2 separate regions of the Homo sapiens genome follow, and region 1 is linked to region 2. The links come from fine-mapping of genetic effects on gene expression. Tissue or cell type: blood mononuclear cells. Region 2 holds a variant in brackets; the other region holds the start of a gene. All regions are shown on one strand. Distances are between the middles of the regions.

Evidence for each region. PIP is the estimated chance that this variant, and not a neighbour inherited with it, causes the effect.
Region 1: it holds the start of STX19, and the variant in region 2 is fine-mapped to the expression of STX19 in blood mononuclear cells (TOPMed, PIP 0.99).

Annotation. Positions count from the first base shown.
Region 1 is chr3:94,024,678-94,032,866 of GRCh38, forward strand. STX19 (syntaxin 19) reads right to left here and starts at 3,920. Exons shown (of 2, transcript NM_001001850.3): 1 at 3,690-3,920. The region is part of intron 3 of ARL13B (ARF like GTPase 13B); the gene reads left to right.
Region 2 is chr3:94,057,120-94,065,308 of GRCh38, forward strand. It overlaps DHFR2 (dihydrofolate reductase 2), which reads right to left and starts at 5,797. Exons shown (of 2, transcript NM_176815.5): 1 at 5,627-5,797; 2 at 803-4,487. The coding sequence starts at 4,392. The coding sequence ends at 3,829. NSUN3 (NOP2/Sun RNA methyltransferase 3) reads left to right here and starts at 5,942. Exons shown (of 6, transcript NM_022072.5): 1 at 5,942-6,019; 2 at 7,318-7,427. The coding sequence starts at 6,008. RefSeq lists an enhancer at 5,836-6,075. The variant G/C (reference allele first, on the strand shown) is at 4,146.

The DNA.
Region 1 (8,189 bases), 32 kb before region 2:
CAGGCTCAAGTGATCCTTCTCCCTCAGCCTCCCGAGTAGCTGGGACTACAGTTGCATGCCACTGTGCTTGGCTGATTTTTTAAAATTTTTTGTAAAGATGAGGTCTTGCTGTGTTGCTCAGGCTGATCTCTAACTCCTGGGCTCAAGCAATCTTCCCACCTCCGCCTCCCAAAGTGCTGGGATTATAGGCATGAGCTAGTGCACCCAGCCTCTTTTTTAAAAAAATTAGAAATAAAGTAATCAAAAGCCTTTTTCTAAAGCATCATAGTTTAAAAATTTTTAAGAAATAGACTATTTCAAATTGCTATTGGAGCACAGTGTACACAGGCCTCTGGGAAGGTGAATTTTCCTGTGAAGTGCCTTTGAGAAGGTGCATTTTACTGCCACTGATTTTGGAAAGCAGGATATTTGAGTCTGACCTCTATAAAGGTTGTTTTTTTCCTGGATTTTTATCCATGTAATATCATTCCCTGAACATGCACCACACTTTTATATTTGAATAAAAGGTACTTTAAGGAGCCCTTTAAAATATATTAATATGTCCTTTTTATTAATCTTAATGAATTTACAAGCAAAAAACAAAATATCCTTTTTTTAATATCTGTATACATTATTGATATTAAAGGCAAAACATGGAAATAGAATCAGGTTTCCTTTCAGTGTTATACATCATGGCAATGCGTATTATGTAAACGATGTTTAAAGTGAGCTATAAAGGTTATACTGTGTTTGTCTTGGTTTATGGATCCTATGCCTGTATTTCTTTTGAACATTTAGAGAATATTTATGTGAAAGATCCTTTACATTATTAGGTTATTTCTAGTTTCTTAGGAGTAAATTCCTATGTTTGCTGTGGCCACGGACTGGTGACCACTCTGTTAAATGTGGGCAAGTGTATTTAGTGAAATTCGTCAGTAGCCTAGCTTCATTGGGGAGTTATACAAGAATGCTCTGAGTGTCCTGATCAATTATGGATACATTGAGGCTATTTTTTTGATTGTCACTACCAACGCCCCATGGAGTTTGCCCCTTGTAGCCCAGGTAGTATTATGTAGGCCTAATTTTTCTCTAGTGATTTTTATAGCCTAAGTGGATATCTCACTTCCTGCTATAATCCTGGGCAAGTCAACAGAGTTATTCCTGTCTTTGTATACAGATTATGTTGTATTATTCCTAGTTAACTGTTTCATCTAGGAAACTCAGTTTTAGTTCCCTATAATGCAACAAACTCTAAACCTCAGCTTTAAGGTAAAGTATTTGCCCAGTGTAATTAGCTTTAATTACTACTCTTCACTTTGGCTTTAAGTATGTTTCCTCATCATTTCTGGCACCTGAAAACTTCTCTTTTTTTTTTTTTTTTGAGACGGAGTCTCTCTCTGTCGCCCAGGCTGGAGTGCAGTGGCACCATCTCGGCTCACTGCAAGCTCCGCCTTCCGGGTTCACGCCATTCTCCTGCCTCAGCCTCCAGAGTAGCTGGGACTACAGGCGCCCGCCACCACACCCGACTAACTTTTTATATTTTTAGTAGAGATGGGGTTTCACCGTGTGAGCCAGGAGAAAACTTCGCTTTTTTACTCTAAAATTTAGTGATGTTGTTTTAAAATTTGTCTTTTTTAAACTTACGATTACATCAAATTCTGTATGTTTAGAGAAAGAGGGAGTAACTTCTGTATCTGTGCATTTTGACTGAAAGTCACAGTTGCTTATCTTTATAGAATTAACATAATTGAGAATGTTTCCCTAAATCCTTGTTCATCTGTGTAGAAATTGACTTGATAGGTACTCAAATATGTTTATATGCTGTATATAAATTACATTTTCTAGTAGTTGCATACTCATAACTATATGTATAACTATCCAATTTATTGATCTTATATCTTCATGAATTAGAATGTTAGGCAAAATGAGACAAATAAGCATGTTAGAATTTAAAACATGCAAGGACAGGATTCATATAAGCATAAAATATGAAGCTCATAGTTGTGAAATCATTTAATTGCTTAGACTAGGTGAAATTGATGAAATTACTATTTTATGCAGTCTGTTATGTACCTTAAATTTATTATGTTGGAAGAGTTATATACAAATATGAATCATCTTTTATTATGTTTAACTTGCAGCATTGCTATACAGTTTTGAATTTTACTAGCAAGAACTGTATCTGTGAGCTTAAACATGATATTTAAAAAAGAAAGAACACTAACTCGTATGTATGATAATCAACTTGGACAACTTGTTCTGGGAAATAGAAAAGTAAACTGGTGCGACTCAAATAAAAGGTTCTCTGCCCTATTACAGACACTGAAAATCCCTAGAAACAGAAACATGAGTAAAAATTACCTTGTACTTTTAGAAATATGCCCTGGGATAGATACTTAGTGTATTTATAGATTTTTTTAAAGTAGGCCATTTCTTTTCATAGTTACTGTAATGATTAAATAAAACATTTCAAGAAATATGACCAGTTTTTACCCAAGAGAAAACAGAATATTCTGTTGCTTTTGTATATGAAGTCAACTTGCCACATTTTTCTAGTGCAAGTGAAAGCAGAGGATCTTATTGTAATATATTAACCTCTTTGGCTACTAAAGTGAGGGCCAAATAGTAGTTTCTAAAAACTAAAAAAAAATTGCAAATTGCATATATTGTCTAATTTTGAAGTATCTGACTTTTTTTGCAATGTAAACTTTCAATGCTTTTTTCTACATTTTATTTAGTCTAAATAACTTATTGAATTAACTTGTATAACAACATTAAGATCATTTTTGTTTAAATATGATGTATAATTTTTGAACTTTTATCTGATTCAAGTAAGCTGTACATACATAAAATGATTTTTATATTACATTTAAAACTGCATAGCTGTGAAGATAATGTGTTCGAGGTATTACGTGGCCAATTCTCAAGTCCACCTTTAAAATACATATAAAAGTCATTATTATTTTGATTTGAAATGGAATATTTATTAAATTCTAACATAGTAACAATTATAACTTTGAAAGTATCTAACCTATCTACATATGTTGTATTTAAATGATGCTGATTTAAATTTTTCAAACTATCAATTAAATGCTAACACTTACGTTAAATGGTATAACAAGTATTTTTAATGTACTAGTTGAAATATTATAAAGGTTAGTGAGTACTTCGATATTTTCTGGTAGCCCTTTCACAAGATTATTTTCTCATTTTTTCAATTTTAGAAGATTCTAGTAAACAACAATGAAGCAATTAAGACCATTATAGCAAATTATTTCAGATTTTTAAGGTTATACGTATGTGTCAAATTTGGGTATAAGCTGCTTTTCAGAGTGAAATATAAAAATGTTCTCTAAAGTAAGCACATTCATAGTCTGTCTATAAAAGAAATAATTTTAGATCTGTTTTTACATCTGACTTTCTAGTATTTTTTAAATGAGAGCTTACTTTTTAAAAGACTTAAAAATTTTTTCTTTCCTCTAAAGTTGATTTTTATTATCGTAGTCTATTTTCAAGAGCTTTATACCCAGATCCCAGTCAGCATGTCAGTAATATATGTGAACAAATCAGCTACTGGTACCCCGGTCCAAATCTGAGCAAAACAAGTAACCCTCATTATTTGTTGAGTGATTTTTAAATGTAACAGTGTAACCAGATGTCAGTCTATGGATACCTCATATTAAAAAGTACAGAAAAGAGTCATTATTTACCTTTCTGTTTTCTTCCTTTTGTTGGTTTTCCACCTGCGGTGTTGGAGTCCTGCCTTTGAGAGAATATCTGAATATCATCTCATGTTTTGAACAAATTATCTAAATCTCTGTCTTATAGGGCACAGACTAATTTCTGTATAGTTTTCATGTTGTTAATTTGAAAGCCAAATAATGAAGTCAAATAAGAGATAAAGTTGTACGTTTGCTGTTAATAGCAAGTGAAAATAGATTGCTTACTTCACACCTGGAGAATCTGGTTCTGCCTGTTAGACGCCTATTCTTTAGATTAAAGGAAGATCATTTTCATTGGAGCTAGTCGGTAACAGGAAGTCCTCGTTAAACTGCCTACGTAGAGTATTTGGCACTGGATCTGCAAATTTAGTCCTACATTGTATATGTAATATATTATTCCAAGAAAATGGGTTTGTATTTAAACAAAGGTTACTTTCTTTTCTATAGATATCAAAACTTACTAAAAATATGGAATTAAATAGGAATGAAAAGAAGCTTGGTGTAAAAGCTTTTTTTGTTCCATTTACTTTAAAATGGTTGAAATCTGTCCTATTTTAGGAAATCCCAAAAGAGCTTAGCTCACAAAATCATAGAATTTCAGAAGGAGAACATCCAGGAAAGAGCTCATGTCTGTAAACCATTCATCCCACGTTACTTTTAATTTTTTTTACTTTTTATTATGCCTGCTGTTTTTATTTTAAAATAAATTTTATATAGAACTAAAGTTATCCAGCAATATATGTTAAATCATTTATTTTGTCAATATAACAACTCAAAATTAATTTATACCAGAGGGAAATGTTTATAGGAAGAATTAAAAATGAAAATTTCTCTTGTACTACCAAATTTCAGACCCATTTTTTCTACCTGACTTGTTACTATTTGAGGGCAAGAAGAAGGAAATTGCTGTATCTATCAAAATCATATATATATATATATATATATATATATATATATTTATTTTTTTTTTATTTTTTTTTTTTTTTGAGAAGGAGTCTTGCTCTTGTAGCCCAGGCTGGAGTGCAGTGGCACGATCTTGGCTCACTGCAACCTCCGTCTCCCGGGTTCAAGCAATTCTGCTGCCTGAGCCCCATAAGTAGCTGGGATTACAGTTGCCTGCCACCACGCCCAGCTAATTTTTTTGTAGAAATGGGGTTTCACCATGTTTGCCAGGCTGGTCTCGAACTCCTGACCTCAGGTGATCCACCTGCCTCAGCCTCCCAAAGTTCTGGGATTACAGATGTGAACCACCATGCCCGGCCAATCACATTTATATTTATTCTTTGTTTTAACAGTTCTACTTCCTGGAATCTGTACTCAAAATAAGAAATGACTCCTTTACACACCTACTTTTTATAGCACTCTTTGTAAAAACAAAACACTGGAAACACAAAAGTCCTTCAGCGTAGAACTGGCTGAATAAATGATGGAACATTCAAAGGGGAGCATTTTGCAATTATAGAAAATAGTGAAGATTTTATTATACTGCTTCAGGGTACTTCAAAATTTACTGTTCAGTTAAAACAAGCATGCTGCAGAAGAATATATATAATATGCTAAGTTTTAGGAAGAAAGGAAGGGTAGATATAAATATTGTATATATACACAAATACATAAACCAGTCAATAGCATTGAATATTCACAGTGCCCAAATTATGGTCCTTGAAATACCATTTTCTCCATACGCTTGTTTATATTTTCAAAAAGAAATAATGGGAGGATGAACTAAACACGAATGAAAATGGTTACCTATAAGGGAAGGGAAGGAAAAGGCAGAGAGATAGCAAATAGTTCCTTTCTGATTGTACCTTGTTTTTATAGTTCTGAATTTAGAACCATATAAATATTTTTTTATTTTTATTTTTTGAGACAGGGTCTCACTCTGTCACCCAGCCTGGAGTGCAGTGGCGCGATCTCGGCTCACTGCAACCTCTGCCTCCTGGGTTCAAGCGATTCTCATGCCTCAGCCTCCCGAGTAGCTGGTATTACAGGTGCACGCCACCACGCCTGGCTCATTTTTTTTTTTTTTTTTTTTTAGTAAAGACAGGGTTTCACCATGTTGGCAAAGCTGGTCTTGAACCCCTGACAAATGATCCACCCACATTGGCCTCCCAGAGTGCTGAGATTACAGGTGTGAGCCACCACGTCCAGCCGATATAAATATTTTAGAAATTAAATCTTAAAACAAATACACAAACGATCTCTAAAATGCAAAAGCACCTAGAAAGAAATGAACCTAGGTATATATCTAGGTGATGGCAAAACCACACAGAGAAGTACTATTTTAAGTAATTTTAAAACAGTATTATTGACTCTGCATCTCTAGTGGGATATAGCGTAGAGACAAAGATACGTAACCACAAAGATATGTTAACCTGCACTTAGTAGTCTTAATATTTAGTAATCATATTGATATTATTATGTTAAAATTCCTATATATAGTTGGATAAAACAAATAATGTCATTAGAAACTGTAGTTTTCAGCATAAGTAAAAAGAGATACAAATAAGATCTAAGGCTGGGCACAGTGGCTCATGCCTGTAATCCAGTACTTTAGGAGGCTGAGGCAGGAGGATTGAGCCTAGGAGTTTGAGACCAGCCTGGGGAACATAGTGAAACCCCATCTCTGCTAAAATAATTTTTTAAAAAAAGAACGTTCGAACACTAGCTGGGCATAGTGGTATGCGCCTGTAGTCCCAGCTACTTGAGAGGCTGAGGTGGGAGGATGGCTCAAGCCTGGGAGGTAGAGGCTGTAGTGAGCTGTTGTCACACCTCTGCACTTAAGCCTGGGCAACAGAGTGAGACCCTGTCTCAAAGAAATAAACAAAAACAAGATTTAAGAAGCTAAGTAAAACTTGGTAGTTGATTTGAAATGAAAAAATCAACACGAATACATGGTTAGATTTTTTTTTTTTCTAGAATAAAACTATTTCCTAGCTTTGTGCACTGAAAGGGCCTAGAAGCAGTAGTAAGTCAATAGCAAATGTTTATCTATAACTCCTAGGTTTTAGTCTTTAAAATGCCATTTTCCACTGAAAAGATCAAGGCTTCTTGGGGAAATGGATGATTGCAAGTCTGGAACCTTGTTTCATAGTAGAACATAAAGAAGCTATCAAAGACTGTTGGAGTTGTACCAAAAGGGTCCAAGAGCCAACCTGAAGGGGACTCCTGCTGCCTCAAAATGGGTACCTTTGAGCCTTAAAAAGAGCAATAACTGCAACAAATTGAAACACATCAAATACATTTTTAAATCCATAAGTTCATAATGATGCCTCTCAAAATAAGAAAAAGTACCAAAAAGCCTGAATAGCCAAAGCAGTCCTAAGCAAAAAGAACAAAGCTGGAGGCATCATATTATCTGACCTTAAATTATACTACAAGGTTATTGTAACCAAAGTAGCATGGTACTGGTATAGAAATAGATGAATAGATCAATGGAAAAGAATAGAGAACCCAGATGATGGGTACAGCGATGCTAGGAAAATTCAATTGCCATATGCAGAAGAATGAAACTGGAACCCTGTCTCTCACCATATACAAAAATTAACTCAGGGTGCATTAAAGACTTAATGTAAGACCTGAAAAATACTGGAAGAAAACTGATGAAACTCTTCTGGACATTGGTCTAGGCAAATAATTCATGACTAAGACCTCAAAAGCAAAAGCAACAAAACCAGAAATAGACAAATGGGACTTAATTATTAAGTAAAAACTTCTGCACAGCAAAAGAAGTAATCAATGGAGCAAACAGCCTGCAGAATGAGGGAAAATATTTGCGACCTCTTTATCCTATAGGAGACTAATAACCAAAACTTACAAGGAAATCAACAACAAAAAACAACCCCATTAAAAATGTGCAAAAGACATGAATAGTCATTTTTCAAAAGAAGACATACAGATGGCCAACAAGCATATGAAAAAAATGCTCAATATGCCTAATCAGAGAAATGCAGATTAAAACCACAATGAAATACCATCTCACACCAGTCAGAATTTTTAGCTGTTACTGAAAAGTTAAAACATAGCAGATGTCTGCGAGATTGTGTAGCAAAAGGAATGTTTATACACTCTTGGAATGTAAATTAGTACAATCACTATGGAAAACAGTATGGAGATTTCTTTTTTTTTTTTCTTTTGAGACGGAGTCTCGCTGTGTTGCCCAGGCTGAAGTGTAGTGGCGCGATCTCGGCTCACTGCAAGCTCTGCCTCCCGGGTTCATGCCCTTCTCCTGCCTCAGCCTCCCGAGTAGCTGGGACTACAGGCGCCTGCCACCACGCCCGGCTAGTTTTTTGTATTTTTAGTAGAGATGGGGTTTCACCGTGTTAGCCAGGATGGTCTCGATCTCCTGACCTTGTGATCCGCCCGCCTCGGCCTCCCAAAGTGCTGGGATTACAGGCGTAAGCCACCGTGCCCGGCCAGTATGGAGATTTCTTAAAGACCTAAAAAAAGAACTACCATTCAGTCTAGCAACCTCACTACTGGGTACCT
Region 2 (8,189 bases):
TGACAACATAAACCTCTATATGAACATGAAGGGTTTTGACACATTTTATATAAATATGAAAATTCATAAAACATAGTTTAGGAGTTATTCCATAAATTACTCTGAAATACTTCTTAAGACCAACTGACCTTATAATAAAATTGCTTAGATATGTAAAAATTTGTTTCCTGCCTAGAGGTACGTCCTTATTAAGCTGCTTGGTTCTTTAACGCTAACATTAAAAAAAGCACAAAAAACAAACTAATGTGATTTATGTTATTTGTGTCAGCTCAATGTCTTATGTCTGCAGTGGTTTAATTCAAGTTTGCTGCTAACAGTTTTTATTCCTAAAACTCAATGTAGAATTGTTTGTTCTTTGGTAGCTATTTGGGGTGCGGATGGGGAGTAAAATCCATTAACATTCTCATGATACACATATATTGATTCTAGATAGATTAAGAGGTTAAACATAAAAGATCAAACTATGAAAAGGTAAGGGGAGAAACAGAAGTGGCTTCACTCGGGGAAAAAATGTATAAGCCTGAAAGCAGTGGAATCAATAAACTCAATTTACAATGCACAAAAAAAATTTTAAAATACCTTCACACTTAAAGTCAAATGGTTATAAGAAAAATTGAGAAAGTGTTTTAACATCTGACATGGTTATCTCAAATATAAATAAAATGATACTAAGACACCTATAGATAAGTGGACATGAGCGGTAATCTAAAAAAGAAATAACTAATAAGATTTGAAAACCTACCCAAACTAAGGGCATAATTAACTAGGCATTATAAGGAGATTATTAGAGATTCAGACAAAATTCATAAGCAAAGTTGTTTATTTAAAATCAGAAAATATAAAGATGCTGAGTCCCAAAAATGTGATAAAATTAATATGACCTCTTTCCAAGTATAACACATTGCCTTTCTCTAACAGAAATAAACTATGATTCTTATTACAGTCTTAAAATTCTTTTTTTAATGAATGAGTGTAACTTTTTATTAAGATAGAATTATTTTTATTAAAGAAATATATGAAAATGGTTAAGTAAAATCAAATGGCTCCAAAAGTCTTACAATGAAAACAGTCCTGCGACTTGTTCTTTCCAGAGGAAAGCACTTTTCATTCTCTTAGTTTTTCCTTCTGGTAGTTACCTCCATGGGTTTTAAAAAATTACTATTTTTTTAGTTTTTCAAGTGAATACATATATTAATACATGTAATCTTTAAAAGCCTCTTCAGTTTATAATGCATCCTAACAGTCCCCTGCCCCATCCCTCCTAATTCTCTGGAGCAATGACTTCTAACTCTTCTAGCAATGTTCCATTCTTTTCTTCACATAACTACTTAGTCATTTCTTGATTATGTTATACATTATATAGTGATTTCTTGATATGACAGATGAGGATTTAGCTCTTACACCATCACTATCTTCACTTTTCCCCCCATATTGTCCCAAAGTAGTTACCAGATTTAGGGGCTAAGCAGTCAGTCACCACATCATTATGACTATGTACATATTGCCCATTGTTGAGAAAAACAGCGTATGATGCTCTTACTTCCTATCCTGTACTTCTTCCTGCCCTAGAATTAATTATTGCCTAACCAACCCTTCCCCCTTGTTTTTTTTTGTTTTTTTTTTTTTTTACTTTTGCTTTATCTTCAATGCACTTCTTTCCAAATGCCCCAAATCTGGCAATAACCTATTATTTTTAAGAGAAGGGATCTCACTATGGTGGCCAGGCTGCTCTGAACTCTTGGGCTCAAGCCATCCTTTTGCTTAGCCTCCTGAGTAGCTGGGACTACAAGCATGGGCCATCCCACCCAGCTAATCTATTAGTATTTTTACTGTTTCTTTTTAAAGCTAGCTCCATAGCTGGAATATTGCCTGTGTTGGATACTATTTGCTGGATCCACGTCATTCTCTGGTTTGTGTACGCCTTCATTTTGCTGGAGTATTTTCTCCGATAGCTTCCCAAGAAAGGGTACATGTAACCCCTGAGTCTTTGCTTGTCTAAAAATGTATTATTTTACCTTCACCCTTGATTCTTTGCCTGAATATAGATTTATCAGTTGAAAATAACTTTATAGAATTCTGAAGGCATGGTTCCGTTGTTTTCAGATTCTTTTTTGAGACAGGGTCTCTTCTGTCACCCAGGCAGGAGTGCAGTGGCAAAATCACGACTCACTGCAGCCTTGAACTCATGGGCTCAATTGAATCCTCCATCTCAGCCCCGTGAGTAGACGAGACTACAGGTGTGTGCCACAATGCCCAGCCAATTTTTGTATCTTCTGTAGAGACAGGGCTCCACCATGTTGCCCAAGCTGGTCTCAGGTGATCCACCCACCTCAGCCCCCCAAAGTGCTGGGACCACAGGCGTGAGCCACCACTCCTGGCCAGTTTTTAATTCTCTCTCTACTTCTTTCATTTCTCAAAGGCATCTCAAACTCAGTGGGCCCAAAACCAAAGTCAAACTCCATCAGAATATCCTGCTACTTCCAACTTTAAAATATATCTTAAATCACAATTTCTTACCACATGCAATCCTTTGGTTCAAACTACCATCATCCCTCACTTGAACCTAGAATTGGTTTTCCTGCTTCTGTACTTTTTTAAATTATAAAATATTTCAAATAAACCATGTGTGGCTTTATACTTTTTACTAAAAGAATGAAGATCTGCCAAGTGCAGTGGCTGATGCCTGTAATCCCAGCACCCCTGAAGGCCGAGGCAGGAGGATCACCTGAGGTCAGGAGTTCGAGACTAGCCTGACCAACATGGAATGTCCCCACCAAAAATACAAAATTAGCCTGGCGTGGTGGCACGCGCCTGTAGTCCCAGCCACCCAGGAGCCTGAGGCAGGAGAATTGCTTGAACCTGGGAAGGCTGAAGTTGCCGTGAGCCAAGGTTGTTCCATTGCACTCCGCCTGGGCAACAAGAGTGAAATTCTGTCTTAAAAAGAAAAAAAAAAAAAAGTATGAAGAGTTTACATACTTAAACATGGAATTGCTTTAAGTGTTTGGCATTCACCGTTCCCGTACATTACAGCAGCTTCTTTCAGCAAACACCTGGAACTTGCTATTGAGTAGGTGGAGTACGTTCTGCCCACACACAGGACAGGGAGCTGACAACCAAGGAGTGGGGGTTAAATACTCTAGCTTTCTCCCCTCCGTTTCCCTGTATCTCAGCAGTATGGAGCTCGTTACCATTGAGAACCTCCTCACTGATTTTGAACTGGTTTTTACCTTCTCAGTTCCATTTCTCCATACTTCGATTGATGACTTCTGGTATGACCTAGCAAATAAACTGCTTTCACTTAAATTTCAGTCTTGGAATCTGCTTTGGGTTCCCCAATCTAAGACAGAAATATATTCATTTTCCCATCACTGGACTTCCAGGTTGTTTTCAGTTTTTCACTGTTACAAAAAAGGCTGCAACATTTGTCTACAAACCTCTGGATATACATGTACGAAGCTTTTGGTATTTCCTACTAGTGAAACTGCTCAGCTGAAGGGTATGTGCATCTTCATCTTTAATAAATACTACCAACATTAGAAAAGCCTGACAATGTCAAGGAGTGGCAAGAGTGCCACATGTGATGGGTGTGGAATGGCAGCTCACTGTAGCAGGTGCTGGGGACTCAGTCGGGGTCTTGGAGAGACAGTTATAGCAAGAATGTTTCATAAATGGTATCTGATATAGCCAAGATTAGTGAGGAATAAAAACACGTTGCTTAGAAATAATTATCCATAGATCTGAAGTCAACAAAAGTCCCTTTTCTAATGTAAAAATGCATACTTTTCTCAGAGGGAGGGGGAACAACTTAAACCAGAAAACACCTTCATATTAATCATCCTTCTCACATACTTCAAATTTGTACTTGATGTGTTTCCCCTCCTGGACATCAGAGAGAACACCTGGGTATTCAGGCAGAAGTTTATATTTCTCCAAGTCAATTTCTGAAAAAAACGTGTCACTTTCAAAGTCCTGCATGATCCTTGTCACAAATAGTTTAAGATGGCCTAGGTGATTCATGGCTTCCTTATAAACAGAACTGCCACCAACTATCCAAATCATGTCTACTTTATTTGCTAATTCTGGTCGTTCAGTAAGTTTTAAGGCATCATCCAAACTTCTGGCAAGAAAATGAGCTCCTTGTGGAG[G/C]TTCCTTGAGTTCTCTGCTGAGAACTAAATTAATTCTATCCTTTAAAGGTCGATTCTTCTCAGGAATGGAGAACCAGGTCTTCCTACCCATAATCACCAGATTCTGTTTACCCTCTACTGAAGAAGTTGTGGTCATTCTCTGGAAATACCTGAATTCATTCCTGAGCGGCGGCCTGGGCAGGTCCCCGTTCTTGCCGATGCCCATGTTTTGGGACACAGCGACGATGCAGTTTAGCAAAAGAAACATGACAGCAGCGGTTAACACCTCCGAACTTGCTGGCTACGCCAGGAAGCCAGGCCAAGAATGCCGCGAAATTCCCTTCTTCAAATTTTTTTACGTGCCTACATTGCAAATACAATACCACTGTATTAATTAATTGCAACATTCTGGAATGAACATAGAAAAATAAATTATATAAAATATATTTATAAAGTATAAATTTATAAAATATTTATAAAATATAAATTTATAAAATTATAAAAAATACAGAGGCTGAAAGGTTAGACCGACTTTTCCACAAACATTAAACAGACGGCATCCAAGAGATGGCATCATTTCATTCCTGATTATCATAGTCTTTTGTACCAAATCTAAATTCTAATAAGATGCATTTTTTAGGTGACTTGGAAACTTGTTTAAATAAATAAATATATTAAGCTTCAAATCAGATTAGAAGGAAAGACATGTTTTTACATGAATATAAGACTTGTACCTATAGCATGTACGTATATTGATATGAGCATCAAGGAACAACTCAAAATGATGATTATTAACTATCAGGGACCATATCAAACCGGTTTTTTCTAATTGCTGATTGCTGCTACAAATGATAGTTACTGAAGCATGACACCAAAAGAGCAAATAAACTTCTATTCGTGTCAAAATAGGTGTAATAAACATCTTCCTTGGAGAACCATTAAACATTGCTCCCTTGTAAAGGTGAATTGGGGAGGCTAGAGTGGAGGGTCCTTTTGGTCTTCACGCATTTGGTATCAACGCGACAAAAATCACAATGATCACAATAGTGAAAATAATAGCAGCTAACATTTGGGCATTTACTGTTTCCTAATCACTGTTGTAACCGCTTTACATGCCTACTTCAGTTTAACACTCTCCATTAAAAGGAGAGATTATCCCCATGGGCCAGGTCTGGGGAAAAGCATGACTTAATTTCTTTTTCATTATATTCCACCCTTTTATCCTTGGGTACTGAATGTCTAGGTTAACAGGGGTCACTAGATTTGGTAGATTAAGTCAGTAACTAGCTTCGCTTTGAGAATATTTTAAATCAGTCATCATACAACATAACCCCAAAACTCATTCCTTTATTGAGCCCCATGCATATACACACTGTTCAGCACAATATGCGACTTTTTATTTATTTTTGAGACAAAGCCTCGCTCTGTCGCCCACGCTGCAGTGCAGTGGCGCGATCACGGGTCACTGCAACCTCAAACTTCTGCCCAAGCGATCCTCCCACCTCAGCATCCGCAGAAGCAGGGGCCGCACAGGCGCGCAGATGTGTGACTTTCTAAGGTCCGGCCGCCCAAAGCTACGCCGACCAATCCAAGTAGCGAAAGTCGCTTTGGCCCTGGCCCGTTACCTCCGCGTCCTGGGAAGTATCAGCCTTTACCAGCTACCGGAAGTAACTGCGCACGAAATCTCCCGCGGGAGCTAAGCCTCTTCGACAAGAATTCTATAGCGCGAGCAAATCAGTATCTCGCGAGAAATTGAAGAGGAAACGTGAGAATGAAAGTGGATGCCCGCGAATCCCGGAAGTCAGACTGTTTTTTTCAGTTCCCTGGAGGCTTTTTGATACTGATTCGCGTACACCTGTTGTTTGAAAGCTCTCAGCGGGACAATGCTGACCCAGGTGAGACCTGGGGCCCGGCTGGGTACCTCTATCTGAATGAGACGCTTCTGGACGCGGCCGAGGTGGCGAGGGAGGGTGCTGGGATGGGGGAACATCACCTTTGTTCGTCCCCTCGCGAGATCAGCGTTTCTTTGGCTTTACTGTCAAGCCCTGAAATAATGCTGAGTGCTGTAATGCTGAGTCCCTTCCGTCCAGCTCGCAGACTTCTAGTACCCACTCCCTCCAGCTCTTGGAGGGCTGAGATTTGTTTTCTGTGTCACAGCGGTATCCCGGGAGCTTAGAACAGTGTCTGTTACATAGTAGGCATTGAATACACGTTTCTTGGATGAATAAATGAAACAATTGCAAGGAAGTTCACGATGAAATTGGAGTGACTTTTCTCCCTAAATTAACTTTTCACTTTAAAATAACGTTGCAAAGATAGTACAGAGTTCTCAAATACCTTTCACCAATTTTTCTTGATGTCAGCATCCCCGGTGACTTTTTAGTTTTGTTTAGATACAAGTTCTTGCTCTGTCACCCAATCTGGAATGCAGCTGCTCCATCATAGCTCACTGTAACCTTGAACTCCTGGGTTCAAGCGATCCTCCAGCCTCAGCCTCCCTAGTAGCTAGGACTACAGGAGCAGGCCACTACGCCTGGCTAATTTTTTTTTTTTTTTTACTTTTTGTAGAGACACGTCCTTGATATGTTTTCCAGTCTGGTCTTGAACTGGGAAATGATCCTCTCGCCTCGTCCCTGCAAAGCATGAGCCAGCTGGAGTACAGTGGCGCGATCTCGGCTCACTGCAACCTCCACCTCCTGAGTTCAAGCGATTCTCCCACCTCAGCCCCCTGAGTAGGTGGGGTTACAGGCGCCCACCACTACTCTCGGCTAATTTTTGTATTTTTAGTAGAGACGGGTTTCCCGTGTTGGCCAACCTGGTCTTGAACTCCAGACCTCATGTGATCCTCCCGCCTCTGCCTCCCACAGTGCTGGGATTACAGGTGTGAGCCACCTGCCTAGCCCCTACAGTGACTTTTTAAAATTAATTTTGTTCCTTTTGACAGTTTCTTCAGCCCCAGTAGATTCTGTTTTAACCTTTGCTTCACATTTGGAAAATAATTATTTGGAAAAACCTTGCTTTTTCATAATTAGATAATGTACAGTTTTGGTACATGTAAGGTATTGCTTCCATTTCAAGAACTAGTAATTATCCAAAAAAAGTGTTCTTGTCTTAAAAAAAGACCTTGCTAATGTTGACGTTCAGTAAATTTGTAATATCACTGTGTGTCAGCAACTTTTTCTTATCGTCATAGCTGAAAGCAAAATCAGAGGGGAAGCTTGCAAAACAGATTTGCAAAGTTGTGTTGGATCATTTTGAAAAACAGTATTCCAAAGAACTCGGAGATGCCTGGAATACAGTAAGGTTAGTATAATTCATCTCGATGCTTTATGATGGAACAAAGTACAATATGTAGTCCTCCTTTTTGTGGGAGGGATGCTGTGAGGTTAAAAGGCAAAGGAATCTAAATCTGGTTGCCTTTTCCTACTGAAGCTATAGAAAGGAACAACTAAGAAGAAATAGAATGAATCATAGCATGTTGGAAAGGGGAAATAAAACTTTGTCGGGATGGTAAGCACAAATTGTTACGCCTTTGCTTTGAGCAATTACTTTGATCCTTGAAATAGGAATGCCCACTAGTTTGACAAAATTAATTATACTGTAAAAGAAAAAAACATAAAATTTGGAATATTTGACTGATTTCTGAAATTTAGAAGATAATACAACAAATCTTTAAAGCCAGCACTGCTTTATCTCAGCCAAAGGTACACTTTATTTGGTAATCATATTTCTTTCCTATGTCGATGGCTGGGTATATTTTGAACACGTGCATATACACACAAAATTATTTAAATATAAAAATAAGGAATGTTTAATGCATGGAAGTGGGAGAAATGTGATTTGTCTGTTTGGTAAGATGATGTTAATGTATGGATTACTGTATGGGTTCTTGACATTGAGTGCCTGATACACTATATAACCCTCTCTGGAATACAGAGCAAGACAGTCTGCATGTCCAGTTTACATGCCGTCTAGTTAGTGTTAATGGGAGAAGTGAGGAGATGGGTGTGGTTACAACTATATAAACTAATTTGTAAATACTGTGATCCAAGTATCTAACAAAGC